4 linked regions of the Homo sapiens genome follow. The protein of the gene in region 3 interacts with the protein of the main gene of each other region in a biochemical or structural test. Each region holds a gene or a part of one and is shown on either strand. Other genes may lie near its edges.

Region 1 (7,618 bases), on a different chromosome or scaffold from region 3:
AGGATTATTTGGCCTACCACACAATGCCTGCACCTCCTCTGTTATTGCCTGAAAATGTAGCCAGTGGCAGAATAGGGAGCCAGATAGGCTGGTGCTGGGGCGTCGAGGGTATCAGCAGACACAGCAGCAAATCTGGAGACTAGACCCACTGTAAGAGATGATGGATTTCAGTTCTAATCCATCAGTGAACCCAGAATCCAGTGAACCTTTTGAGGCAAGAAACGTAAATATCTAACTTGGCATTTTCCTAGCATTCCCCAGCTATAAGCTAGGCAGTTTAGAAAACAAGGAATTCAGACTCTAGACCCTGCTCAATAGGTTCACCAATTAAAAGTGTCAGTCTGAGGAGAAGCAGCATGATGATGATGGGAGGCACACTCTGAGGGGAAAAGAAACAGGGTTAGGGAGGAGTGAGCCACTGTCCCAGATTAATAGAACGTTAGAACTGTCCAAAGGATCTGAGATATCCTTTAGCCATGTTCTAGGCCTTTTAGGAAGTTTTCTGGAGCAGGCCTTACGCTTTATACCTGGTTTACTGCTTTATCCACAACATCACTGTTTTAGTTGCTCAAGAAATACTTGAATGATGTACTAGAGTAGAAACTCTGGTTAGAAAGGTGAGTTGATATGTTCAAGATCAAACGGTTGGTTTGCAGGAGAGAGGGCATAGACTGGTTTTGAGTCTTTGTTCTACCAAATTTAGGAGGTACCTTCCGTAAAATGAACTCCTGCACCAAATGAGGCTTCTTGTATAATTTCTCTCTACCTTGCACATAGCATTTCTTCCTTCTATATGAAATTATTCATATAGAATAATTCTATTCATTTAATAACCTATTTATTTAATGTCTAAAACATTAGTCAAGAGACCTGAGTTCTGTTCCCTGTTTCCCCATTCACTTCCTTGGTGTCTGAGACAAATTACTTAACCTGTCCAAACTCCAGTTTCTTCAATCATGAGAGAGGCTGAGGTTCCTTCTCAGCTCGCACATTCTATAATTCTAAATTTCATGGAGGCTAATGAATTAATAAGCTCCCTGCTATGGTTTGGGTATGGCTTTGGACCTGCAAAGTGTCATGTTGAAATATGAGTCCCAGTGCTGGAGTTGGGGCCTGGTGGGAGGTGTTTGGGCCATATGGATGAATTCCTCACAAATGGCTTGGTGCTATTCTCCTGAGAGTGAGTTCTCATCCTTGAGAACAGGTTGTTCAAAAGAACCGAGAGTCAGCTTCTCCCTTTCTCTCCCCTGATGCCCCATCTTGCACTGTAGCCATGTGATCTCTGCACGAAGTCTCCCCTTTGCCTTCTGCATGAGTGGAAGCAGCATAAGGCCCTCATCTGAAGCTGACAGCCTGCAGAACCATGAGTCAAATAATCCTCTTTTCTTCATACATTATCCAGCCTCCCGTATTCCTTTATAGCAACACAAACAGATTAAGACCCTCACCCATGGACCATATGTCTGCATGTCCTCATATCAGTGTTCCCAAAAGTGTGATCAGCCACCACCAAAGTCATCTCAGGTTGGCCAAGCATGGTGGCTCATGCCTGTAATCCCAGCACTTTGGGAGGCAGAGGTGGCCTGGATCATTTGAGGTCAGGAGTTCGAGACCAGCCTGGCAAACAAAGTGAAACCCTATCTCTACTAAAAATACAAAAATTAGCCGGGTGTGGTGGTGCATGCCTGTAATCCCAGCTACTCGGGAGGCTGAGGCAGGAGAATTGCTTAAACAAGGGAGGTGGAGGTTGTAGTGAGCCACGATTGTGCCACTGCACTCCAGCCTGGGTGACAGAGTAAGACTCGGTCTCAAAAAAAAAAAAAAAAAAAATCACCTGAGATCCTTTACATATGCTGATTTTTGCAGTTGTTAAGAATAATGAATCAGATATATGGTTTCCATTAGGCCATGCTTCCCTTTTCACTCTATAGGCATGCTACACATAAAAAGTGATAATATTTATGTGGCATACTAGGGGAAGAAACCTTAAGACTGTCTCTCTGACAATGCACATCTTGCTGAGAAATTCTGCCATACGTATTGAGAAAAACAGCTGCAGAAAAATATACATATGATCTAACTTTTTCAAGACAATGCCAAAGCTCAGTATTAGAGTGTATGCATATCTGCATGAATATGTATTGTTTTTATACAATTACATGTTATTTTATGTAAGTGCAGATATACACTATTACAAGAATATTTAAAGAAATGTACTAGGTTGTTAATGTAGGGGAAGAGAAGAGGGAATACACGGAATAAAAATTTTTGTAAGTGAAAAATTCAATATGTATGTCATGACTCCATTTATACATTTATGTAAAATAATGTATAGAGATGTAAAAAATAAAAAATGCAGATCCAGAGCCCCTACCTCAGATCCTTTCAAGCGTAATCTTAGCAATAGGAGGTATGGTAAGGTGGGTGTCTGCATCTTCAACAGGTATTCCAAATGATTCTATAACAGTAAAGTCTGTAAACCTTTGCATTAGGTGCAAATATCATTAGCTGTAAACAGAACATAGTTGGAAATTTCCATCCTGCAATGCGGGCTCAGCTGACCCTCATTGTCTTGGAACATAGTAGATGCATAATAAATAGTGCAGATTATTTTGAGTCATTTGGAGGACAGGTGGAGGGAGTGAGGGCAAAAGTGGTGAGAGAAGCAGATGAGCTGGGCAAGGACATGCTTGCTCAGGAGAAGGGAGGCAAAGCGTATAAGAACATACTGAGCCTCCTTGCCACTTTCGACGTTCAACCAATATTTGTTAGGCACTAAATATACATGCAGGACACTTTTCTGTATGTTGTTTCATTTAATTCTTAAATAATCCTTTACAGACTCAGAGAGGTGAAGAGAGTAGCACAGGTAGTATCAGAATTGGGATTCAAACCTGACACATACACTGAGCACTAAGTTAAAACCGGGCACTGGGCAGCTGCTGAGGATGCGATGGTGAGTACAACAGACTGCTTGCTCTTTTTGATATCTAGAATCGTACAGCTCTGCTGTGCTCATCCTTGTCTGTTGTCATTTACTAGTTGACATCTTCGTTGACTACCTAGAAGCAGCTGCTTCGACATCTATCCCAACCTGAATCCCGTCAAAGGGAGATTACAACAAATGTGCTTTTTGTCTATCATCTCTAGCTAGTGTTTCACAGTGGGGGGAGTATCATTTCCTGGGTGACTTTGCATAGAGCAAGCTCCCCAAAGGCCAAGGAATACTCAATCTAGATTCTTCCAATCCTCCGGTACCCACCAAGTCAAAAGAATTCTGGCTCCCTGTAGCTTCATCTAAGTGCTTTTCTGTTAGAGGAGAAAAGTGAGGAAAGCGATGCTCTTTCAATAAGTTCGGCAGGGTGGGGCAAGGAATGGTACAAATTGATTTTTTTTTTTTCTTGAGACAGAGTCTCGCTCTGTCTCCCAGGCTGGAGTGCAGTGGCCCGGTCTCGGCTCACTGCGACCTCCACCTCCCGGATTCAAGCGATTCTCCTGCCTTAGCCTCCAGAGTAGCTGGGACTACAGGCGTACGCCACCACTCCCGGCTAATTTCTGTATTTTTAGTAGAGACGGGGGTTTCACCATATTGGCCAGGCTGGTTTCGAACTCATGACCTTGTGATTCGCCCGCCTCGGCCTCCCAAAGTGTTGGGATTACAGGCGTAAGCCACCGCGCCCGGCCGGTACAAATTAATTTAACACATCTTTTGATAATCTCATCCTTGGTGTTGGAAAAGACGGGAAAATCCAAAAGTGTCTATTTTGTGCCCAAATGCTCAAGTTAATACTCGAGGGCCTTGATCTCTGGCCTCTTGCCATCCCTCTCCCCATTATTTCTGAAGAAGTAGCCATTTTGCAGATTCCGGAGGATGGGAGCCACGGCCGGCCCCTGGTACTGAATCTCATCTCCTTCTCAAGGCTCCTTGGATCAAGTTGGGACCGGCAGCGCCAAGGCTGCTCTCCGTGATTTAGCAGCAACCTAGAGTCAGAGAGACCGGAAGATGGGAGGCCGGGATTCTCAGGTGGGGTCAGGGGTATGCAAAAATCCTTAGCAGCGGCCGCGCCCCCGCCCCGGGGAGGTAATTTGCGGAGGGCGGTGCAGTAGCCTCTCCAGTGCCCGCGTCCCACGGTCTAACGGCACTGCTCCCGGGGTGCGCGGCCCACGACTCAGGCTGCCTCCCCCAACCTGACAAGTGTGCGTCCTTACCACAAAATGCCACCACTTCCCTAAGTGACGCTGGGCCCCGAGGACCTGATTTGAAATCGGTGTTCAGAAGACCGAGCCCGGCTGGACGCAGCTGGCCTCCGGCTGAGAGCGGAGGGGAAGGGTTCCATACTCTCCGAGGATCCCGCGGGCTCGTGGCGTGTGGAACGCTTTTCATCGCTTTCAGTTCCCGTTTCCTTCGCCCCGACTGCCTACTCGGTCGCAGCTAAAGCCCGGAGCGTGGGATCCGGGCCCGGAGGAACGGGATGGCGAACGCGAGCTGCGCCGCGGCCAGGAGCCCGCCGCACCGGGCATGCTCAGTGGCGCGGCCGGCTGGGTGGCCCGCGAGCTGCACCCGGATCTGCTCGGCGGCGGCGACGTGAGCGCGCAGGGGGGCGGCGGCCTCGCCTCGTCTCTCTCTCTGCGCCTGGGTCGGGTGGGTGACGCCGAGAGCCAGAGAGATGTCGGATTTCGACAGTAACCCGTTTGCCGACCCGGATCTCAACAATCCCTTCAAGGTGAGCTTCGGCCCCAGCATCTCCTGCCGCCGCGACGCGTCGTTGTTTGTGAAAACGGACGAGTTCCTTCGCGCCCACTGCGTCTGCCCCTCGGCTCCCCTTAGCAGCCCAGAGAGGGGCGCGGGGCCGCCGTCCTCCATTTGGGGTCGCGCCCCGGCCCCGTGTCACTCCTTTGGGTTTTGGGGCTTGGGGGTGGAACCTCCTCAGCTCGTGCCCGGTCGCCCTTCCACACGTCCCCGACTGGTGAGGGTCGTGTCTGCAGCCGGGACTGGGCCCGCGCGCCCGGAGGGGTCCTGGCCCGCCTCTCAGGAGAGAAAGCCGAGGGCAGGTAGAGTCGCCCCTTGCCAAGCAAGTGTGGCTGGCAGGGCCGGGAGTCGGCGGAGGGGGGCCCGCCCTGGGGTGGGGTTGTCATGGGGACCCGAGGTGGCGGCGGCGGAGAGCTGCGTGGGGTGATGGCAGAGGTGTGGAGGAGGAGAGAGGTGAGGGCACCGAGTATGCTGCAATTAAAAAAAAAAAGGTTATGTTTTTATTTTTTAAACTTGTGTTGCACCCAAATACCACCAGTGGCGCTGCCATCCCCCCTCTTTCTGTTAGGTTGAGGTTGAGGTTATTGATACCAAAGCAAAACTTAAAAATAAACATATCTGGAAAACAATAGTGCACGTGGACGACCTCTTCCCTACCCAGCTGCTTCTAGCAAGGTAAACGATGGGATATTTTCCAAGCTCCTAGTGCGTCACCGGTTCTCTGGGCTATGTGAGGATACCATTTCCTACTTGAGCTGCTTTTCTTCTTGGAGTCGACCTTATCAACCCCGGCTTCGGAAGGGCTTGGCACAGAATCCTGCAAAGGAAGGCGGCTGAGATATTCATCGTCTGCGTTTAAATGAATGCAACATCTAAATAACTCTCTCTTTGAAAGTATTCTGAATTTCCTAATGAGTGTAACTGTTAGCACGTGTAATTTGTTTCCAACTGTTGGTTGAAGTTGTTTCTCAATCCCCCCGGCCATGTGCAGTAGTAACTTTAATTTGCAGTCACACAGAATAAAACAGGAACTCTAATTTGTGGTCACACAAGTGTCACTTCTGGCTTGTTGAGTTTACATCTTTTTACTCCTGGTTTTATCTTTCATTAAGAATCCTGGAAGAGGAAAACTATTTCTGCTCTGATTATTAAATGCCTGATAATTCCAAGGAGGATTATTTTAATGAAATGACCCTGATTATTATTGACAACTCGACTCACTTTGTAGCAGTGTAGAATTAGACTCAGTCACTGTTTCATTGTCCCTAATGTCACTTAAAATTCAGTACAACTGGCCTGTACCTTTCAGTGACATGGTTGCATTTTAAGACTTTTTTTTTTTTCCTGGCAGTTTTGTTTCAATTAGTATTGGACTTGCTTCCATGTTGTGGAAAATCAGGTAGTTCTTAAATGGTAGACTTTCTAAAGAGACCGTTCATAAATTGTTAAATGGGTGTTATTTTAAAATATTTTGAAGATAAAACATCAAGAACCTTTTAGCCTTTCCTAATTCAGATAATTCACTGACGCTGTTTATTCAGCATCTGACGATTTGGCAGTGTATTTTCTACTTGGTCATTCCATTTCATGGTTCATTTCATATTAACTGGCTCTCTTGTTAGGGCAAAACATTGTCTTCATCTTAGCCCAGACTGTCCTTTTGTGACATCTGATATTGCCATGACACTTTTCCTCTTCTGACATTCATAAAGTTGCTGTAGTAATTCTAAACCCAGGAGTTGTTTTAAATATTCATTGTGGCATAACGTTATAAATCTTTTTTGTTCTTTTATAAGTGGATGTATCCAGGACAATGATTATTCAAGTTTGTAAAATGCATCAGGGACAGATCATTTAGGTCTAAAGTAGACTTGGTTGTACACATATTTCTGCTTATGATCTTTCTCTGTTTTTGGTGACTGTTATAGCACTGTCAGTGTATCTGACCCTTTATTTTTCCATTTATGTTCACCTGCCCCTCCTCCTCACAAAGTATAGTTTTATATCTATATTTTGTCTTTTTACTTCTGCTTATATTTATGTAAAAGTGATTTTTGAAATAACATTTCTGATACTCTACTTAAATCTGAAATGTTTCTAGAATCATTTGAGTTACTTTATGATCATTTTTCTTTTTTTACTTTTTTTTTTTTTTTGAGACGGAGTCTTGCACTGTTGCCCCGGCTGGAGTGCAATGGCGTGATCTCAACTCACCACAACCTCTGCCTCCCGTGTTCAAGTGATTCTCCTGCCTCAACCTCCCTAGTAGCTGGTATTACAGGTGCCCGCCACCACACCCGGCTAATTCTTTGTATTTTTAGTAGAGACAGGGTTTCATTGTATTGGCCAGGCTGGTCTTGAACTCCTGACCTCGTGATCCACCTGCCTCAGTCTCCCAAAGTGCTGGGATTACGGGCGGGAGCCACTGCGTTCAAGCAGATCGTTTTTCTTTCTTTCTTTCTTTCTTTTTTTTTTTGAGACGGAGTCTCCCTCTGTCGCCCAGGTTGGAGTGCAGTGGCGCGATCTCTGCTCACTGCAAGCGCTGCCTCCTGGGTTCACACCATTCTCCTGCCTCAGACTCCCAAGTAGCTGGGACTACAGGCGCCCGCCACCACCGGCTGATTTTTTGTATTTTTAGTAGAGACGGGGTTTCACCGTGTTAGCCAGGATGGTCTCGATCTCCTGACCTCGTGATCTACCCGCCTTGGCCTCCCAAAGTGCTGGGATTACAGGCGTGAACCACTGGGCCCGACCCATTTTTCAAATCTGTTTTTATTTGCAGTATTTGAAGATAAAGCTCTTATTTTCAAGTATATGATATTTCGCATTTGGTAACTATGCTAATTTCTTTTTCATTAAATCCTATTT
Region 2 (7,025 bases), about 39 Mb from region 3:
CCATTCCTGGGGCTTATCCCAGAAACCAAATCAACACAGTCCATCTGGGTCCACGAGCTGTTTAGAGGACGCACGCTGCCTTAGGCAGTCACTGGGGTCTACACAGCTACTCCTGGCTTCCAAAAGCAACCAGTACAGAGGTTAGGGATGGGGTTGACCATAAATTACCTGAATAATAATTTATTTATTTGAGACAGAGTTTCCCTCTTGTCGCCCAGGCTGGAGTGCAGTGGCTCAATCTTGGCTCACTGCAACCTCCGCCTCCCGGGTTCAAGCGATTCTCCTGCCTCAGCCTCCCAAGTAGCTGGGATTAAAGGCACCCACCACCACACCCGGCTAATTTGTGTATATTTAGTAGAGATGGGTTTCACCATGTTGGCCAGGCTGGTTTCGAACTCCTCAGGTGATCTGCCCACCTCGGCCTCCCAAAGTGCTGGGATTACAGGCGTGAGCCACCACACCCGGCCCTGAATAATAATTTAATAACATTATATATTAAGTGGCTTTTAGGTGAGTACTCAGTTACCTTCATCTTCATTTCAGAGAAAAGGAAATAGAGGCTCAGAGAGGGGGAGTGGCTTGTCCAAAGCCACACAGCTGGGGAATAATAGCCTTGGGACTCAAACTCAAGTCCAAAACCAGCTATAAATAAATGTAAAGAAATGTGGAGAAATAAATACAATTAAAGTTTAAAGTGATTGTGCCACTAGCTAAGGGCATTTTGAGTTCAATGAATTTTCATTGCAGTCTTGCAATGATCCCTGTCTTACATATAGGGAAACTGAGGCACAGAGGGCTTAAATCACGTTGGGAAGTTCCCCAGGCAGGAAGTGTGGCCCTGATTCTAAGGGCCTCACTGAGTCTGGGAAAGAAAAAGTTCTTGCAGGTGGGGTCAGGAGGGGTGGGGCAGGGGAGACCCCCCACACTGCATTACCGCATACGCTGTGTGATGCACATTCACACAGACCGATGGCAGGTGTGCTCTGACCCTCCCAACCCAACCCTGAGCAGCAGGCACTCCCCCACACCCTCCACCTTGGAGTCCAGTGGAGCCCCTCCCCCTGCTTTGCTCGTTTCCTAGGCTTCCTTGGGCTGAGGGAAGGGGAGAGGGAGGGCACAGTCTCAAGTACAAAAGGGGTGCCTGCTTTAGGTCTGTACAATAGCTGGGTGCATAATTCATGCATCTGTCGCCAGAACATCAATTATGTGGGCCTTCCCTGGAGTTGTCTGGGGGTTAGAAACCAAAGCAGGCTTCCCCTGCTAGCCTTTGGGGGAAAATAAGACTGCCCAGCTCTTAAAGGAACAGACTCCCAGGGAACCCATTCCTCCCTGTGCAGGCGCCCTCCTGCCAGAAGTCACCAGACGAGAGCAGCTTCCTGTAGGGCTCAGCCCAAAGCCCACTGGCTGCCCACTCTGACCCACTCTGTGTCCCCAACTCCACAATTGTGAGGGGCTGACTATTGGCATGTCCCAGAGTTTCTCAATCTCAGTACTGATGGCATTTCAGGCTAGATCATTCTTTGCCGTGGGAGCTGTCCTGTGCATTGTAGGGCATTTAGTGACATCCCAGACCTCCACCCCCAAGATGTCAGGAGCACCCCTCCCACCAGTTGTAACGACCAAAAATTTCTGCCAAAATTGCCAAGTGTCCCCCAGGAGTAAAAATCATCCCCTTAAAAACCACTAGTATGTCCTCATTTTACAAATAAGGAAACTGAGGCAGTGAACATTTGGATGCCCAAGGCCATTCCACCAATGAATGGCAAGAGCTAGAATTTCAACTCCAGGACCCACACTCCTCAGCTCAACACAGGAGCACCAAAAAGTGTGCTGCCAAGATGTTATTCCAACAATTACATATTTATTTTGGTGAATATTTAATACATATAGCCCTGGCATGAAAAATCAGCAATTTTGCATATGATTTCTTAGAATAAAGCTAAAATAAAATAAAGAAGGTGAGTGGGCTTTTTTGATTTTTTGTTTTTACCATTAAGGAAAGAGTGATACAAGTAGCAAAATACATACAGTATAACGTCAAAACTGAGCAAAGTCCAGGTGCGGTGGCTCACGCTTGTAATCCTAGCACTTTGGGGGCCCTGGTGGGAGGATTGCTTGAGGCCAGGAGTTCAAGACCAGCCTGGGCAACATAGTGAGACCCCATCTCTACAAAATATAGCCAGGCATGGTAGCATGCACCTGTAGTCCAAGTTACCTCGGAGGCTAAAGCAGGAGGATCGTTTGAACCTAGGTATTCGAGCTGTGATTGCACCACTGCACTCCAGCCTGGGCCACAGAGTGAGACTCTACCTCTTAAAAAAAAAAAAAAAAAAAAAAAAAAAAACGCAACAAAATGACAATTTAGGGACCCATATATTCTTATTGAAAATCATACAGAGAAACAAAGGGACGAAAAACTGCACACAGAGGTTATCTCTGGAGTGGGAAAGACACAAAGGAAGTGTCAGTGTTACTGCTGCCTGCTCTGTCTCTCCATTTGGGTGGCGGGTTCTAGGTGTTCATTTGATTATGGTTCATAAATTATATATAAATTAGGTCTATTTTTGTATATATCAAACATTTTATTTTCTTTATTTTATTTTTCAGACAGAGTTTCACTCTTGTTGCCCAGGCTGGAGTGCAATGGCATGATCTCAGCTCACTGCCACCCCCACCTCCCGGGTTCAAGCAATTTTCCAGCCTCAGCCTCCCGAGTAGTTGGGATTACAGGCGCCTGCCACCACACCTGGCTAATTTTTTTGTATTTTTAGTAGAGACGGGGTTTCACCACATTGGCCAGGCTGGTCTTGCACTCCTGACCTCAGGTGATCCACCTGTCTCAGCCTCCCAAAGTGCTGGGATTACAGGTTTGAGCTACTGCACCCTGCCTCAAACATTTCATTTATAAAGTATTACAGAATCTTCCTTTTTCAATGGGTGCAAATCAAGAAACTCAAACCTATTTTTTTTTAAACATAGGATGTGTCAGACTTAACTATAGCAAAAAAATCAGAAGTTATGGAACCCCTGAGGCTGGGGAGGCACCACACCTTGGAACATTCCCTTTCATCTTCAGAGCTGGCCCATCAGGGCACTGGCACTCTCTTGCCCCCTGTGGCATCCCCAATGTCTGGCCTAGTGCCTCACGCAGAGTAGATGACCAAGAAATATTTCCCAGGCCAGTGCAGTGGCTCACACCTGTAATCCCAGTGCTTTGGGAGGCCAAGGCAGGAGGACAGCTTGAGCCCAGGAGTTCGAGACCAGCCTGGGCAACAAAGTGAGATCCCATCGTTACAAAAAAGGTTAAAAATTAGTTGGGCTTGGTTGTGCTCTCCTGTATTCCTAGCTACTTGGGAGGCTGAGGTGGGAGAATTGCTTGAGCATGGGAGTTTGAGGCTGCAGTAAGCTATGATCACACCCTTGCACTCTAGCTTGGGCAACAGAGAAAGATACTGTCTCTAAAAAAAAAAAAAAAAAAACCTGAATTCTGGTACTGACCCTTCTACTTCTAACTCCATGAACTTGAGCAACGGCCAACAAATACTTGGTGAGCACCTGTCAGGTGTCCCACCCTGGGTTAGGTGCTGGGGGCACATAGATAAACCTCAGAACCCATCCCCATCCTCCCAGTACTCACCAATTCTGGGCAGCAATAAGCACACTCACTCACGTGCACACACACACACGCATGCACACACACACACGCACGCACCTGTGATGGGATATGAGTGGTAAGTATCCCCAAGGTATGGTAAAATGGTGAGGAAACCCAAGGATGGAGCAGTCAACCCTGCCTGGGGAAAGCAGGGAGAACTCCAAAGGGAAGGGGTCACATGGGCTGGATTTGAAAAGATGGATTGGAGTTCACCAGACAGCAAGCAAGAAGCTCGGACATGCAGAATTGACCAATGATAGTGTGCGGCTAGAGGAGTGTGAATTTTGAGAACCGATGGCAGGAGTGGCCAGAGAGAGAGGTCAGAGTCAAAATGAGAAGGACTTGACAACCAAGTGTCCTTACTGGGGATTCATTGCAGGGCCAGAAACCTCCCACACTCACCCATGTAGCAATTGGGTTGACTTACAGGATACAGCAGACAGTCTCAGAACAAGGACAGGAGGCAAAGACCGAGACCGGGCCACCCCGAGGCTGGTGATCTGAGTGGGTGGGGTGATGTGGGCTGAGATTTCCCCTGTGATGACAGCTGGCATCTATTAGACACTCACCGTGTGCTGCTGGAAGCTGTCCTAGCACTTTGCCTGTGCTAACACATTTCATCTTCACAGCAGTTCTCTGAGGTAGATACTGTTATTATCAGCCCATTTGCTAGATGAGGAAACTGGGGCTTAGAGAGGTTAAATAACATGCTCAATGTAAGGAAATGGCAGAGCTGAGGCTTGAACCTCAAACAGGCTGACACCAGAGCCTCAGCTCTTAACTGCTGCCCTCGGCACCCTGCTATGACCCTCCTGCGGTCCCCACTCCTCCTTCATCTGCACCTTCCCTTCATTCTCTGGCTTCTCTTGAAGGTTCAGCTTTCTTTGTCTTTTTCTTTCGTTTGTTTGTTTGTTTGTTTGTTTGTTTTTTGAGATGGAATCTCACTCTGTCGCCCAGGCTGGAGCGCAGTCGTGCAATCTCGGCTCACTGCAACCTCTGCCTGCCGGGTTCAAGCCATTCTCCTGCCTCACCTGCCAAGTAGCTGGGAATACAGGTGCCGCCACTATGCCCGGCTAATTTCGTTTCTTTTTTTTTTTTCCTTTTTCTTTTCTTTTGTTTTCTTTCAAGACAGGGTTTCTCTCTCTGTCACCCAGGCTGGAGTGCAGTGGTGTGGTCATGGCTCACCACAGCCTCAACCTCCTTGGGCTCAAGAGATTCTCCCGCCTCAGCCTTCCAAGTAGCTGGGACTATAGACATGTGCCAATACACCCAGCAGATTTTTTTATTTTTTGTAGAGACGGGGTCTCACTGTGTTGCCCAGGCTGGTCTCGAACTCCTGGGCTCAAGCAATCCCCCCACCTTAGCCTCCCAAAGTGTTGGGATTACAAATGTAAGCCACCATGTCTAGGCTAAGGCTCAGCTTTCTCTGATGTTTTTATGGCATCTCTGTCCCCTACATTTGGGAGACAGTTGCTTGAGGGTTGGGCTTATCATGAAGCTGATTCAAGCCTAGATTCTACTTAACATTTAATTCAGGGACTTACCCTCCCGTAACCCACTCACCGCCTGGGTTCCTGAACTCAAATTTCTCAAAGGTAGGCTGGCTAAGCCCCAGTGTACGGATTGGCTTAACTTGGATTTTTTTATCCAAACTTCATGCTCTGATCATTGGCAGGCAGGATCAAATGATACAACCATGGTGACCAGGCCCCCCCCTTCCCACTTAGCAGGGGCAGAGGAAGAGAAAGGGAAAATCTACAAAAGCAAGACAGGTATAGGGGACCCAATAGACAGGTTTAGGGGTTTGGATTTTTTCATGAGGAGCCCTGGAGATTTATTAAACAAAGGAGTAATGTGATTGGATTTGTATTTTTGAAAAAAAAAAAAAAGACCCTCAGAGCAATTGATTACATCTGTTTGCTTTTCTGCATAGTCTGTAGACTGGCCTACTGGCCTAGATTCCATTAATTTCAACATATATCCATTGAGCCCTTTCTCTGGGCCAAGCTCTCTTCTTGATCCAGGGGACTCAAAGGTAGTTAAGCCAAGGTCTTTAGCCCCCAAAAGCACATAGTTCCAATCAGGAGTTAACATGGGCCCAGAATGTCTGTGCCTCCCTAGGAATTACCTGCAAAATCTTGAGTGTCTAGGCATTTTTCTAGCAAAAGGTTAGCTTTCATCTGATTTTTTTCCCCTTTGTTCTTCTATAGAGACAGAGTCTCACTATGTTGCCCAGGCTAGACTCGAACTCCTGGCCTCAAACGATCCTCCTGCCTAGGTCTCCCAAAGTGCTGGGATTACAGACATGAGGCACCATACCCAGCCAAATCTGATTTTTAACACAGCCTTAAGAGCTCATGTTCTTGGGTCACACAGACCTGGGTTAAAATGCTGGCTCTTCCACTTACTAGCTGTGGAAACCCAAGTGTCCGCATCTGTTCAATGGAGCTAATAGCACTGAACGGGGTTATTATAAGAATGAAATGAGCTATTTCATGGAAAGTGCCTAGCACACAATGAACACTCAATCAAGGATAGTTATTATCATTAGTATCATCTCTGTGAAGGTAGTTCCCCATCCAGTGTGAGCCACTGGTCTAGATCAGAAGTCAGCAAATCATGGTTCACAGGCCAAATTCAGTCCACTGCCTATTTTTGTAAATAAAGTTTTATTGAAACACAGCTATGCCCATTCATGTATGTATTATCCAAGGTTGGTTTTATGCTACAGCTGCAGAGTCGAGTCGTTGTGACAGACAATGCAGGGTTTCAGGGCCTATAAAATGGTTACTATCTGAAAAAGTATGCTTGAACCCTGGGCTTGCTGATAGCTTTAAAACATTTCATTTCTCTGGGCCTTGGTTTCCACATCTAGACAATAAATGGATTACAACAAATTCTCTTTTTGGCTCATTAAATGACTAGTGAAATGTGAAAATGCTCTTGAACATTGAGGAGTGCCCTGTAGATCCAGGATATTATGATGATCATCCTGTGGGGTGGTTGATAACTAAATCCCACTCTCTTCTCCTCACAGATCCTTGCCATAATTTCCATCATGTTCATCGTCCTCTCCACCATTGCCCTGTCCCTCAACACGCTGCCTGAGCTACAGAGCCTCGATGAGTTCGGCCAGTCCACAGACAACCCCCAGCTGGCCCACGTGGAGGCCGTGTGCATCGCATGGTTCACCATGGAGTACCTGCTGAGGTTCCTCTCCTCGCCCAAGAAGTGGAAGTTCTTCAAGGGCCCACTCAATGCCATTGACTTGTTGGCCATTCTGCCATACTATGTCACCATTTTCCTCACCGAATCCAACAAGAGCGTGCTGCAATTCCAGAATGTCCGCCGCGTGGTCCAGATCTTCCGC
Region 3 (7,025 bases):
AGTCAGCCTTCAGCATAACACGTAGGTTTTGACGATTAGTAGAAACGAGAAAAATAATCTGAGAAAGAGGTTGAGAGAGGAGACATGAAGGAGAAAAATAGAAAATATGCTTTTTAGATAATTCACTATGAATAAACAATGTTTCTCACATTATGGGACTGCTTTACAATTCTATAAAAGAAGGAAAAATCTGTGTTTTAAGCCTCAGCGCTGGATACTTTCTGCAATGTCATCCCTTGTCAGCAAGTACCAACCTGATAGGAAGATACTGATCAATCGGTATTCACCGGATACAGAAATGAATCCCATGGGAGTTATAAAATTTCATGGTTTTGTCTTGACCTCAATAAGTTTAGCATCTAGCAATCTTAATAAAAGCAATAAACAATAAGTTAATAAATAAAACCAGAATTAAATGCAATAAAACATTAGAAGACAAATTTTGAGGACATATGTGATTAATTTCCAAGTGAATGTAACCAACAATAAGTAACATAAAATCAGGAGGGCGATATCGCAGTGGACTGGAACAATCTGAGAGAAGAGGCAGGCCTTGAGATGGCTTTTGGAGGTTGCAGAGAGGTGGGAGAGTTCTGTTAAGCTGAAGTCACAACATATGCAGAATATCAAGTTAGGCAAGCCCACTCTACAGTTGGCAAACCCTGAAAATGCCCATTGATTTGGGTGGAGTGGGAAGCTTGGAGGGAATAGGCTGGGATGCAGAGTTGGAGCCTTCTGTGGAAGGCTTTGAATGTCAAGCTGAGAATTTGGTACTTTATCCTCTAAAGTTGATTTCTGAGCAGAAGCTGATATAACAAAGTAACCAGGTCTTTTTAATATCCAGAAATTACTATTGACAGAGTGGATTTAATTTGCATTCTTCCAGAAGTAGAGGGGAGCAAATTGGTATCATAAGAGATGGTTAATGAAAAAAAATCAGTCCTTACTGAAGCATCTTTTAAGACTACTTTTCAGGATACATATACCTACATAGACATATAATTCCTGCTTGGAAGTTAATTGCAAGTTTCCATTTTCCATTATTGACTAAATGAAATTATGCAAGTTGAGCACTTGCCAGGCAGACTGAAAAGAAAGTCAAGAATCTGGTGATGAGACACCCCAGAAGGTCCCAGAAGGTGCACTTGAATAATAAACATGGTGCTGAACACTCTCTTGCCCTCTGTGAATATTCAGCATTGTCAAGTGCACTGACGGGAGGAATGAAAAAAGTTGTCATTTCTTCTGAGCATGTTTTGAGCAGCATGACATATAGGACCAGCCCCAAGTGGCTAAAAATGGGAGGAAAAAGATGGAATGGTAGAATTTTGAAAAACTGGAATGGGTAGTATATCAGATTTCTTTCCCTGCCTATTTTGCTGACTCTTGCTAGTTACCCTCACTTCAGGGCTACCTCGAGGTCTGGATTACACCCATTTCCTTTCTAACCTTGTGGTTACTACTCTCACAGAAGAGCTTCAAAAATCCAAATGCTGACAGAATTGCTAAGCCAAAATAGTCAGTGGGTTCATGTAGAGGAAGAAATGGCAACGGTAGATACAGATTTTACTGCCATTTCATTTCTGGCTATAAGGTATCAAGAGACTATCCTCATCTATTCTTCACTAAAACACTGGCAGTAGAGACACCACAGGATAACATTTTTATATCCAAGCTGACTACCTAGGGGAAACTTAGAGGTAGTGACATTTGATGCTTTAGGAGGTCAGGTTGGTGGTTATTAAACTGAGTCCAGGGGCTACACAAGCATCAAGTAAGGTGAAGGAAGGAGATATGACATAGCACTGAGGAAGTAGGACATGATGAGGGGACAAAAAGTTAAAAAAAAAAGTCTTACAAGAGGAAAAAGACTTCATAGAAATTTCTAGAGAACCCCAGCTACACTGTGAACTCCTCAGAATTGCTATTATTGCCTTAACAATAATACCTACTCTTTCTACATAATTTTCTTCACAAGACTCTCAAGCACTTCACCCAATATGAAAGTCCAAGGAATTTCTGATTTCTAAATAAATAGTGCAACCCACAGACACATATGTTCAGATATAGTATTAGATCACATTTAGTAAGACATAAATTGATTTAGAATGACAGAGATACCCAAATCAGTGATTAATCAGAATGGGCTTATGGGGAAGAATGTGACACTCATTCTAAAAGTGTTTACCTATACTGGCTCACTGTATCCTCCTAACAACCTTGTGGTCAGATTACTATTATTATTTCCATTTCGCAGATGAAATAACTGATGCACAGCAAGGGTAAGTAACTTGTCGCAGAGCAGAGCCAAGACTTAAATGTAATCAGTCTGACTCCAGAGATTAAGCTATGAAGTGTATTTTATGCTACCTCTTGCATCATCCATATTTTTCATATTGGCCAAATAAGGCATAGAGAATGTACATGTCTTTTTTTTTTTTTTTTTTTTTTTTTTTTTTTTTTTGCAGTCTTTTCCTCCTCACTTGGGTAGCAAGGCCTGAAGGTAAGGATGCTGGTCAGAGCCAGGAGACCCAGCTCTAGCCCTGAAACAACTGCTTGTAATTTCCTGTTTGGAATTACACAGTCTTTAAATTAGTCAGTGCACCACTGTTGAACTTGGTTTCTTTACTGGCAGAATGATAGAAGTGGACTAATGATGTCCAATATCCCTACCATTCAAAAATCAATGAAATCAGTGCTGAAAACCCCAGGCAATGGGTCCTGGCCTAGTGACCGATGGCCTCAGCTGGCATCATCTTAATAATGCTTCAGTAACTGATCTGGACCCAATTGGAAGATTAATTACATTCATCGCCTCCCTCATCCCAATCCTTATTTTTTCCCCCCTCAGAATTGCTTGCCTTCATCTTTCTGAAGCCTTCTCAGAGTTAAGAAATCCTGTCTTCTTCCTCAAAGCCCTATTCTGAGTCATCACTGCTTTGGGTATCTCCTGTCCTTCTCAATCAGATTTGTAGCTATCTAGCACATACTGTCTCCTACAACCTGCCTAAACTTTGTATAAATTTCTTTCTAGACCTCTTCTTGATCATCTCGTGTGTCTGACTTAGCAATGTATTAGCTGCAGTTCCCTCACTCATCCTCTTACTTCTTCTGCCGCTTAGCAAAGAGGAAACAGAAGCTTTTATAGAATCTGTGAGCTGTAAAGTACTTTAAAAGTAACATTCCTGTGTGACCTGAATCTCATGATACTGATAGCCAGCTCAAAAACTAATCACATTGGGAGGATGTGGGGTAAAATGACATCACAGGAAAGCTTTAAAAACATAGGACAAGGAGAGAAGGAAGCTTTAAAGCCTATGAGGTCAGAGGTCAGCAGTTGGTGGTACAATGTTGATTAATTAAATTCATAGTCACACATCAAATAAATTCACATGTCCCGGAGGGGAAAAAAAAAAAACACATTCGCCTTGTCACAACCTACTGCAGATTTCAATGTCTTTCCACCAAGGTAAAACATGGTATCACAAGAGGAAATCCTAACTGATTTTCTTATTGTTGACTACAGAGGTCAACCTCAGCAGTGACTGACTTACTGGTAAGAACAAATCTGTATCCCTAAAAAGAGATGGGGGGAAATCCTATTTAAGGATTAGCATTTCCTTCTAAATGCTTAACAATGATTCCAGAGAAATTCAGTCAAATGATGCCTGCTCCCGAATGATGCTGAATAACAGCTGTACTGGGCTTATGGCTTGCTTTCTTTGGTTGTGGAAAAATATATTTCATCCTCTTCTTTGCTGTTGTTGATATGGTTCATATTACTCAAAGATGTCTAATTCTCATGTCTTAAATTGAGACTGTTGGCACTTTCTGCTGACTCATTGTGTCTTAATCTTCCAAGGTGGTCCATTTTTACTTAAAGAAAAAGGTTATTTTCCTCCAAAGTGGCAGGTTCTACAAAATGACCATCTGGTCCCAGCTTCCCCATCACTTCCTTTATTCAAATGACACTAGTCACAGATCTTGAACTTGAGAGATGACTTTCCATGCCTGTAACCTTGAATCAGTGGTTTCTGTCCTTTACTGATAACAGCAAGTAAAAAAATGAAAGTCTCTTAGGTGCCCCCCTGAGGCCAGAGTTCAGCCCTACACTCCTGCCTCATTCCTTTTTCAGAGAATTTTCTCAGTTGAGCTCTGAAAATCCTGCAAGTTGGACAGAGTTCCCTTTCCATGAAGAGTCTCAGACCAAGTTGTTAATCTCCTTTATTTATGTTCATCTTTGGTACAGTTTCAAAGAATAATAACTGGCAAATTCCAAAACAGTGAATTTCTTAAATTTCCCTGCAGTTATTCCGAAGTTGGTCTGGCAGCTAGGTATAGGTAAATCACACTGTGACTTCTCTATCAATAAACAGAAAATGCACAGAAATAAATGCCAGAAAGACTGCTAGGAAGAACACTGGCAAACTATTTCAATACGCATTAGCCTTGTTGAGTGAATTTTTTATTTTAATGGGAAAGTCCATTCCTAATTTATGCCAGAGAAATTGCTGAATGTATCTACTTTTTCCAATTCCATGATCACTGCCCATGTATTGCTTCATCATAAATCAGCTGCTATTATGGCATTCTTCATTAATTAATCCATTGAACAAATATTTATTGAACACCTGCCATGTACCAGGAAAACATACACTGGTTCCTAAAGTCAGAGCTGTAAATAAAATCATCATGTTTCTGCCCTCCATGTGTTATGCTAGGTGTCCCCTCTTGAGGTGTCATTATTTTAAAAGGCATGTTTCAATGGGATGCCTTTTAGAATCTAAGACATTAATTCAATGTAGAAAAGAGCTATGGCTCTCTAATCAAAATATACAATCTATTGAAGGTTTCTACTGAGCTGTCAGTATCTACAGAGAGATTGCTATATCATAAACAAATACATATTAAGAACCAGCCTCAGCCATCACCGAACTCAGTAAATATCTAAGGTATGTCTTTGTGTGAACTTGTCTCTATTTACATGGCAATCAACTAGGATGTCACTAAAATGTCCCTTAAATACATGACTATATTCCAGTATCCCAATCTGTTGGGATCTCTCCCTGTAGAGACCACTTTCTGCCGCTCATGGGAGGAAGGGGTCAAGCTTTAAGAAACATGGTACCTCCTGGGCCAGAAATCCTATTCCCAACTCCAAAACTCATGGAGCAATGCAAGAATAGGTTGACTAAGAAAGGATCCTTTGGATGAGAGTACTTCCCAATCCAATCCACTTTCCTCCTCTGAAAACTTCCTGTCATTAAACAAAGTTCAGTGATTCGGGATCAAGTAGAATTATGTAGTGATTCTGGATCAAGTAGAATTATGTCTTAATTTCCCAAACTCCTACTTCTAGAAATTCACCTCTTACCAATGAGCAATGCCCCTATCTCCCTTGTAAGATTGATCACACTGCTTTGTAGTTACCTACTTATGTATTTCTCTTTCTTAATAGACTTTGGAAGTCTTTGAGAGCAAGGGTAATATCTTAGCTTTCTTTGAATCTTCAGTACCTATAACAGTGCCTGCCACACCCATGTATGCAGGAAATAAGTGAGCGAATGGGGATACCAGCTACCCCTTTGCAGAGAAAAGAATTCTACCACTGTAAGTAATCCTGCTTTTTATTGATCAAATGTTATGATCAGAATAACTCAGGAATTGTTGTGTACCCTTGCACATAGATTCATCCTAAATATTGGAATAAAATTATGTCCCAAGGAATTACTTAGGTTTACCCTAACTAGCTGCCAAACTATGGCAAATGGTATAATATTCTAATCTGTTGTTTTATCACTTATGAGTCAGGAGTTAAAATGCTAACGAAGGATCAAAGGATTCTCAATAAAGGCATTGCTAAAATCAGGTTTATATTCAGAGATTAAAAGCCATTCACTAAGAGCATTTAAAGTCAAGCAGTTTAGCATATATGAATTATAAGTTTAAATGTTTTACTGTTCACTAGGATGAAAAGGATATTTCATACATCCATTTGAGACATATATTACATTCACCAGTGGGGTAGATTTATGGCTTTGGCCAACTTGTGTTTTCAGGGTCACATATTTGCTGCTGTGCTATTAGAATTGGCATGGTGGACACAAGTTTTTCATGTCAATTCCGCTTCCTTAAAAGTGTCCTTCAGAGACACCAGTCTCTGGGCTTTTCCTCTCAAATAGTCAGTGTCCTCTTGCCTGGGAGAGAATCATAAGCCTGGGCATGATTTGGTAAATAAGTCCCATTTGTCCTTAGAAAAAAACCTTCACCAGTTGAGCATTGAATTTTGCATATCTTTTTTCCCCATTCCTTCTCATGAAAACACGGGTTACTCTGCATCCAACTTTCTCCAGAGAAGACTGAAGATACTACCACTTAATGACCACAAGGAAAAAAGTAACTAACTTCCTAAATGTCTACTGTGTGCTGCACTGGGCACTTGATGTATGTTGTTTCCTTTATTTTCCATGGCAGCCTTAAAAGAGTTCGGAACACTTGTCTCTGACTGCAAAGTCCATGGTTTTCCCCACCACCCCATAAATTATCCCATGAGTTGCACAAAATACATTGAGATCCTCTAACAGAAAGCACACTGCTGATACATAGAACGTGAGTCAGCCAAATCTAAAAAGCTGAGTCCTCCAAGCTAAATAGCCAGGTGAGATATGGTGGTGTAAGTGACCAGAGAAACTATGTGTCCAAACAAGTTCATGGAGCAATGGGTGGAGAGTCAGCTGGCTGCATGCCAGCTCTGCCACTTCAATTGTATAACCCTGAACAATTTACCTAATCTGAACTGAGCCTCACTTTTATTTACATCTGTAAAAGGAGAGCAATTGCTGCCATGCATATATGTCAAGTGGTTGTCGTGAGACCTAAAGGAGCTAATGCTTGTGAAGTAGTTACCTCCACCACTCTGAGAAAGAGGAAGGGACTGTTGTTATGTTCAGTTACCTGCTATTTGCCATACCAGATTTCCAGGGTTCTTTATTATAGGTTACATGAAGGCCATATGCTTCTTTTCC
Region 4 (7,617 bases), on a different chromosome or scaffold from region 3:
TATACGTAGTATACATACAATATATACTATATATACGTAGTATATATACAATATATACTATATATACATATATACATACATACATATGTGTATATATACTACATGTATATACTATATACATATGTGTGTATATACTATATACTATGTAGCATATACATACTATATAGTATATACTATATATGTGTATATGTAGCACGTACTATATGAGTATATATAGCATGTATATCCTATATGTGTGTGTATACCACTTGTATGTACTATATGGGTGTATATAGCTTATATGTACTATATGTGTGTATATAGCATGTATATACTATATGTGTGCATATAGTATGTATATACTATATATTTACAGTGGATGTGTGTGTATATATATATTATATATATTATATATATAATGTATATATAATATATAATATATATATATAAATTATATATATTATATATATAATGTATATATAATATATATAATATATATATAAATTATATATATATGTAATATATATTATATATATATTTAGACAGGGTCTCATTCTGTTGCCCAGGCTGGAGTGCAGTGGCACAATCACAGCTCACTTCAGCCTTGACCTCCTGGGCTCAAGCAATCCTCCTGCGTCAGCCTCCTGAGTAACCTACAGGCACATGCCACCATGCCCAGCTAATTTTTAAAAATTTTTTGCAGAGACAGTGTTTTGCTATGTTGCCCAGGCTCCAGTCAGATTTTCTCGGGAATGTAACTTAGCCCTTTGTTTCTCTTTTCTTTCTTTCTTTCTTTCTTTCTTTCTTTCTTTCTTTCTTTCTTTCTTTCTTTCTTTCTTTCTTCCTTCCTTCCTTCCTTCCTTCTTCTTTCTTTCTTTCTTCCATATTTCCTTTCTCCTTCCTTCCTTCCTTTCTTTTTCCTTTTTTCTCCTTCCTTCCTTTTTTCTTTCTTCCTTCTTTTTTCCTTCTTCCTCTCTTTTTTCCTTCTTCCTCTTCCTCTGCCTCTTTCGCGTTTTCTTCTTTAAGTTTTTTAAACATTTATTTATTTATTTATTTATTTTTTAGAAACAGGGTCTTGCTCTGTGGACCCGGCTGGAGAGCAGTTGCATGATCACAGCTTACTGCAGCCTCCAACTCCTGGGCTCAAGCAATCCTCCCACCTCAGCCTCCATGTAGATTTCATTCAATTTTAGTGTTTGGCTGTTATGATGGTGTTTTGAACGCACTGTTGTGATCTGGTTGATGTTTTGACCCCAAAAACACCTTGACTGCATATGTATGTATGTAATATGAACAAAAATGATAAATTACACATTATTATTTATCAGGGGAAATTCAGCCAGATATTGGGCAAAATTCATCCCCAATATTTCACGTAGGTTATTTTCTATTTCCCCTAAGTGTTGGCCGGTCTGAGAAATAAAGGGACAGAGTACAAAAGAGAGAAATTTTAAAGCTGGGTGTCTGGGGGAGACATCACATGTCGGCAGGTTCCGTGATGCCCCCTGAGCCATAAAACTAGCAAGTTTTTATAAGCGATTTTCAAAAGGGGAGGGAGTGTACAAATAGGGTGTGGGTCACAGAGATCACATGCTTCACAAGGTAATAGAATATCACAAGGTAAATGGAGGCAGGGCGAGATCACAGGACCACAGGACCGGGGAGAAATTAGAATTGCTAATGAAGTTTCGGGCAGGCACTGTCATTGATAACATCTTATCAGGAAACAGGGTTTGAGAGCAGACAACTGGTCTGACCAAAATTTATTAGGCGGGAATTTCCTCGTCCTAATAAGCCTGGGAGGGCTACAGGAGACTGGGGCTTATTTCATCCCTACAGCTGCGATCTGTATATACATATAGCTTGTATGTACTATATGTGTGTATATAGCATGTATACACTATATGTGTGTGTATAGTATGTATATACTATATATTTATAGTGCATGTGTGTATGTGTATATATATATTTTTTTAGACAGGGTCTCACTCTGTTGCCCAGGCTGGAGTGCAGTGGCACAGTCACAGCTCACTTCAGCCTTAACCTCCTGGGCTCAAGCAATCCTCCTGCCTCAGCCTCCTGAGTAGTCTACAGGCACATGCCACCATGCCCAGCCACCCCCAAAGCGGCCATTTCAGAGGCCTACCCTCAGGGATGCTTTCTCTTTCTCAGGGATGTTCCTTGCTGAGAAAAAGAATTCAGCAATATTTCTCCCATTTGCTTTTGAAAGAAGAGAAATACGGCTCTGTTCCGCCTGGCTCACCGGCAGTCAGAGTTTAAGGTTATCTCTCTTGTTCCCTGAACATTGCTGTTATCCTGTTCTTTTTTCTAGGTGCCCAGATTTCATATTGTTCAAACACACATGCTCTACAAACAATTTGTGCAGTTAACAAAATCATCACAGGGTCCTGAGGCGACATACATCCTCCTCAGCTTACGAAGATGATGGGATTAAGAGATTAAAGTAAAGACAGGCCTAGGAAATCACAAGGGTATTGACTGGGGAAGTGATAAGTGTCCATGAAATCTTCACAATTTATGTTCAGAGATTACAGTAAAGACAGGCATAAGAAATTATAAAAGTATTAATTTGGGGAACTAATAAATGTCCATGAAATCTTCATAATTTATGTTCTTCTTCCATGGCTTCAGCCGGTCCCTCCATTCAGGGTCCCTGAATTCCCACAACGATTATTCACAACTTCATTTTTTTTCTCTGGCAGGATAAGGAAAGTTTTGAGGTTGGGCATGGTGGGCTCATGTCTGTGGTCCCTGTGCTTTTGGAGGCTGAGGTGGGAGGATTACTTGAGCCCAGGAGTTCAAGGCGGCAGTGGACTATGACCATGCCACTGCACTCCAGTCTGGGAGACAGAATAAGACTCTGTCTCAAACAAACAAACAAACAAACAAAAAGTTTTGGTTGCCAATTCAACACCATCCAGCTGCTGCCAATATTATCATATGTTTTTGAAAAATCCACTGGGAGAGAGGGAGAAACGAGGGAGGGCCCAGTATTTACCAGAGAGGGAGAATTAAAATGGTGGTGGCAGAGGCAAGAAGGCCGAAAGAAAAGCACTTGCCTGTTGCGGGGTCCAGGAGGCATTCTGGTGGGGAAGTTCAGGATATGGAGAGAAAAAACATATCTTTTTTTTTTTTTTGGAGACGGAGTCTCGCTTTACTGTCCAGGCTGGAGTGCAGTGGTGCGATCTTGGCTCACTGCAAGCTCCACCTCCCGGGTTCAAGCAATTCTCATGCATCAGCCTCCTGAGTAGCTGGGATTACAGGTGCCCGCCACCACACTCACCTGGACAACTGGCTGTCAAGACCTTCCATCGGGTAACAGAACCACATCACACCTAGAACCAAGTCCAAAACGTCCTGTTTTTTAATGTGTAGCCTGTTGCTCTCAAGCAGATTTCTTAGCGCTGCCTTCTGGTCAGACCAAAGCCACCTCCTCCAGGAGGCAGTAAAGACTTTAACCTTGTTTAAAAACAAATCTGGCCTTGCCTTCTCCTCCTGGAAGGCAATCTTTGTTTGCCTGGGAGTCTTCGGCTAGCCAGAGAGTAACAGTGTGATTTATGGTGGGGGCTTAGGGTTACATGGATATCACTTAACCAAGAGGCTGAGATCAAGCATGAAAGCAATCAAACAATCAATCAATCATGCACATGCAATGGAGCCCAGTAAACGTTCTGCACACTGTGGCTCAAGTGAGCTTCCCTGGCTGGCAGTACTTCGTGTGTAAGGCCACACATCAGTGCAGGGCAAGTAATGAGGCCTGACTACACAGGGAGAGGACCACGGGAGGACCTTGAAGCTGCACGCCGTAATCCCCAGACTCCCCCTCTGCCCTTCTTCCTTGGCTGATGTTAATCCGTATCATTTTCCTGCTAAGAAACCATAGTTGTGAGTACAGTAGTTTTTAGTGTATTCTGTGATTCCTTCTAGCAAATTATGGAACTTGAAGGTGGTTTTGGAAACCGCCAGAATTTGCCGTTGGTGTCAGAGGTGATAATGGTCTTGGGGACTGTTCCCCCAACCTGGGTAGTTCACCTAAGCTCCTGCACCTTCATGACGACCTCTCTGCCAGTTCCGTGCCCATGCCCTTACTTTCTTTTCTCATCTATCATTTATTTGTCTGTGTCTGTATTGCCTGTTTCTCCTGCCAGAATGGTATCCCAGGGCTGGGCCTGCGGACGCTCTTCCCGTTACCGCCCCCTGCCGTGTTATGCTCCGTAAGCATCATGTGTGGTACACGATCTCTTCTCCTTCATTCACACCCGAGGCTGCGCGTGGACCCTTAAAGAGAAGGTTCGGCATATGTATTACCCAAAGCTGCACCCAGCACATTCCGGGAGCTTTGCTCTTTTGTCACTATTCGTTGAATGCTCTATATTTTGATAAATAAAACAATGAGTGTGAAAGCATAAAAGCAGATCAAGGGACAAACAGCACGTGTAGCGGAACTGCCAGCCTGGGGCTCGGCCGGACCCCGCCCCTCCCCGCCTAGGCCCCGCCCCCAGGCCCCGCCCCTCCGGGCTCCCGCTGGAAAGCGCTGCCGCCGTGTGGGTGGGTGCGGGGCGCGGCGCGGGCCGGGCATGCGCAGAGCGCGCGGGGCGCGGTTGCCGTGGCAGCGCCGGCTCCAGGGAGGGCTGCTGGCGCCGGGCCGGGACCGCGGGGCCTGAGGCGGAGACCGGAGAGCCCGAGGCCCGGCCGGAGGCAGCTCGGGACAGGCTTGAGCGGCGGGGCGCGCTGCCCGGCCGGCGGGGATGCGGGACCGGCTGCCAGACCTGACGGCGGTGAGCGGCAGCCGCGGGTAGCGGTTCAGGCCCGGCCGGGGCGGCGTCTGGAGGGCGGGCGGGGGCTCGGGGCGTCTTGGGCGGGGCTCCGGGAGGGTCCCCAGGGCGGGGATCTCCGGCGTTCTGGGGCGGGGGCTGCGGGCAGGGTCTCAGGGAGTCCTGAGCGGGGACTGCTGGTGGGGTCCCCAGGGCGGGGGTCCCGGGAGTCCTAGGGTGGGGGCTCCGGGCGGGGTCCCCAGGGCTTCCTGGGCGGAGTCCTCAGGGCGGGTTGGGGCAGGAGGAGGGAGCGGGGAAGGTCCCGGCCTCGACCCCCTCTTCGAGCGTGGCTCCCTGTCCGTCACTCCGCTTGGCGGATTGTATCTGGCGCTTACCCAGCCGGAGCCCACTGGCCTAACTGTGGTCCGCCCCACGGGGTCCCCGCAGCTGGCGTCAGCCCCGGGGAGCAGGCCGGGTCCTCTTGGTCGCTGCTTTATCCCTGGGGCTTCACAAAGGACTGTGCACCAAGCGGGAGGCAACAGATGGGTGTGAAATGTGGGCACCTTAGAGTGCTGGGTGCTTGGGGTGGGGCGAGCGCGAACAGCAGCTTGTGTCTGATCTCCCAGTAGTTTGCTTTGGAAACTGGGACCGTGTGTTGACTCTGAACGCACCTTACGCGCCCAGCAGCCGGGCACACAGCAAGTTACTGTTTACTTTAGCAAGGGAAAAGCAGGTCACTAAAAATTTTGGAAGGATTTCGATGCATTCTACACGTGTAAAGGTGACAGGACTGTGCATGGTGCAGTGACAGCGGAATGATAGTGATGGTCGTGCACTTTCCAAGCTTGTCTAACCCAGGACGGCTTAGGCCAGCAGAAGTAGTTATGACTTTTTCCCTTTACAATACAGGTACTAATTCATGCTACGTGTGTGCACAGATAGAGCCTCTGGTCTCTAAATTGTTGGCAGCCTCAGAACAGGGGTGCTAAGGCCCACAGCCCTACGACACCCACTGCATGTAATGAATTATTCTCTCTCCTCTGCTGCTAGAATGGAGCTGTTATGTACCCCCGAGTGGGAGAATAGAGAAAAGAGCCACTTAAATCATTATCTGTGTTCTGTGGTTCAGATGAGGAGCTCTGGTTGAGAAAGGCAATGATTTCATCCTTAGGATCATGGAAATTATGCTTTATATTCATTCCAAGGAAGTTTCTTCACGGTGATTTTTCCTTTTTTATTAATGGACAAATATTCCCTGTGTTCCGCAGATCAATATCATCTTAAACACAGCAAATTATAGTTGTGTTGTCTTGCCCGATGGATTATCTTTCAGTGCCGTGTAGTAGGAGCTCAGGTATTTATTTAATGAAGAAAAGCTGTGGCTCACTCCTGTAATCCCAGCAGTCTGGGAGATCAGGGTGGGGGCATCACTTGAGCCCAGGTATTGGAGACCAGCTTGGGCAACACAGGGAGACACTGTTTCTCGAAAAAAATTAAAAAATTAGCAGGAGGCCAGTCGCAGTGGCTCATGCCTGTAATCCCAGCACTTTGGGAGGCCGAGTTGGGTGGACCACTTGAGGTCAGGAGTTGGAGACTAGCCTGGCCAACATGGCAAAACCCCGTTTCTACTAAAATAGCCGGATGTCATGGCGCACACCTGTAGTCCCAGCTACTCTGGAGGCTGCGGCAGGAGCATCGCTTGAATCCAGGAGGCGGAGGTTGCAGAAAGCCGAGATTGTGCCACTGTACTCCAGTCTGGGCAACAGAAAGAGACTCTGTTTCAGAAAAACCAACAAAACAAAGCACGCACAAAAAAACTATCCAGGTGTGACTCGCACCTGTAGTCCTTGGTACTCAGGAGGCTAAGCTAGGAGGATTCCTTGAGCCCAGGAGATAGAGGCTGCAGTGAGCCATGATTGTGCCATGCCACTGCACTCCCGCCTGGGTGACAGAGTGAGACATTGTCTCATAAAAAAAAAAAAAAAAAGCTCAATGTCATTGAACGTGAGAGCTGTGACTATTTTGGCAAAATACAGCCAAATTTATATGTTGGGGAATCGTGAGAAAGTACGTTTTCTTGGCTTGAATAGCAAAAAGCAAATAAGGCAATTATTTGTCACTCAGTTTCTATATATCCAAACCCTTCCTGAAACAGTAGAACATGTCAATCAGTTTTGTTCTAGAACGGCAGAGCTAGAAGTCAGCTCATCTACTTCAATACCATCCTGCTTTAGACACAGCAGCTGAGCAGTCAGAGAGTATATCCGTGGAAGTTTCCACTCATGGAGTTTCTCATCTTGGGCAAATAATTTTTAAATCTCTCAAAACTTTTTCTTGTACGTGAAATGGGGACAGTGGTATCTCTCTTGTCCACCTCATAGAGGGAGTTATGAAGCATAAAATTATCTAATGTGTGAAGCTCTGGGAGAAGGTGGGAGGGAGCAAGTGCTATGTAATTATAAGTGTGATTAATGTTTACCAGATTTTTTGTTTTTAGGGAGTTATAAAAAGCAGCCTTCTGGCTGGGCACAGTGGCTTTCACTTGTAGTCCCAGCACTTTGGGAGGCTGAGGTGGGCAGATCATTTGAGCTCAGGAGTTCAAGACCAGCCTGGGCAACATGGCAAAACCCTGTCTTTACAAAAAACATACAAAAACTCAGCCAGGTGTAGTGGTGCATGCCTGTGGTTCCAGCTACTCAGGAGGCTGAGGTGGGAAGATTGCTTGAGTCCAGGAGGCGGAGGTTGCAGTGAGCCAAGATTTTGCCACTGCCCTCCAGCCTGGGCAACAGACAGATTGAGACCCTGTCTCAAAAAAAGAGAAAAGAACAACCTTCTCCCTAGTATAAAATAGTAAGTTAAAACT

Evidence for each region.
Region 1: the proteins of SNAP25 (region 3) and SCAMP1 form a complex in vitro, tested with the Homo sapiens proteins (one study listed by BioGRID).
Region 2: the proteins of SNAP25 (region 3) and KCNB1 form a complex in vitro, tested with the Homo sapiens proteins (one study listed by BioGRID).
Region 4: the proteins of SNAP25 (region 3) and STX2 form a complex in vitro, tested with the Homo sapiens proteins (one study listed by BioGRID).

What each region holds. Positions count from the first base shown.
Region 1 is NC_000005.10:78,356,005-78,363,622, forward strand, and holds the start of SCAMP1 (secretory carrier-associated membrane protein 1), read left to right. Parts: upstream 1-4,612; 5' UTR 4,613-4,667; coding exon 4,668-4,724; intron 4,725-7,618. UniProt on the Homo sapiens protein: Functions in post-Golgi recycling pathways. Acts as a recycling carrier to the cell surface.
Region 2 is NC_000020.11:49,374,660-49,381,684, reverse strand, and holds part of KCNB1 (potassium voltage-gated channel subfamily B member 1), read left to right. Parts: intron 1-6,692; coding exon 6,693-7,025. UniProt on the Homo sapiens protein: Voltage-gated potassium channel that mediates transmembrane potassium transport in excitable membranes, primarily in the brain, but also in the pancreas and cardiovascular system.
Region 3 is NC_000020.11:10,221,829-10,228,853, forward strand, and holds part of SNAP25 (synaptosomal-associated protein 25), read left to right. Parts: intron 1-4,849; exon of another isoform or gene 4,850-4,952; intron 4,953-5,458; exon of another isoform or gene 5,459-5,610; intron 5,611-7,025.
Region 4 is NC_000012.12:130,836,231-130,843,847, reverse strand, and holds the start of STX2 (syntaxin-2), read left to right. Parts: upstream 1-4,597; 5' UTR 4,598-4,748; coding exon 4,749-4,778; intron 4,779-7,617.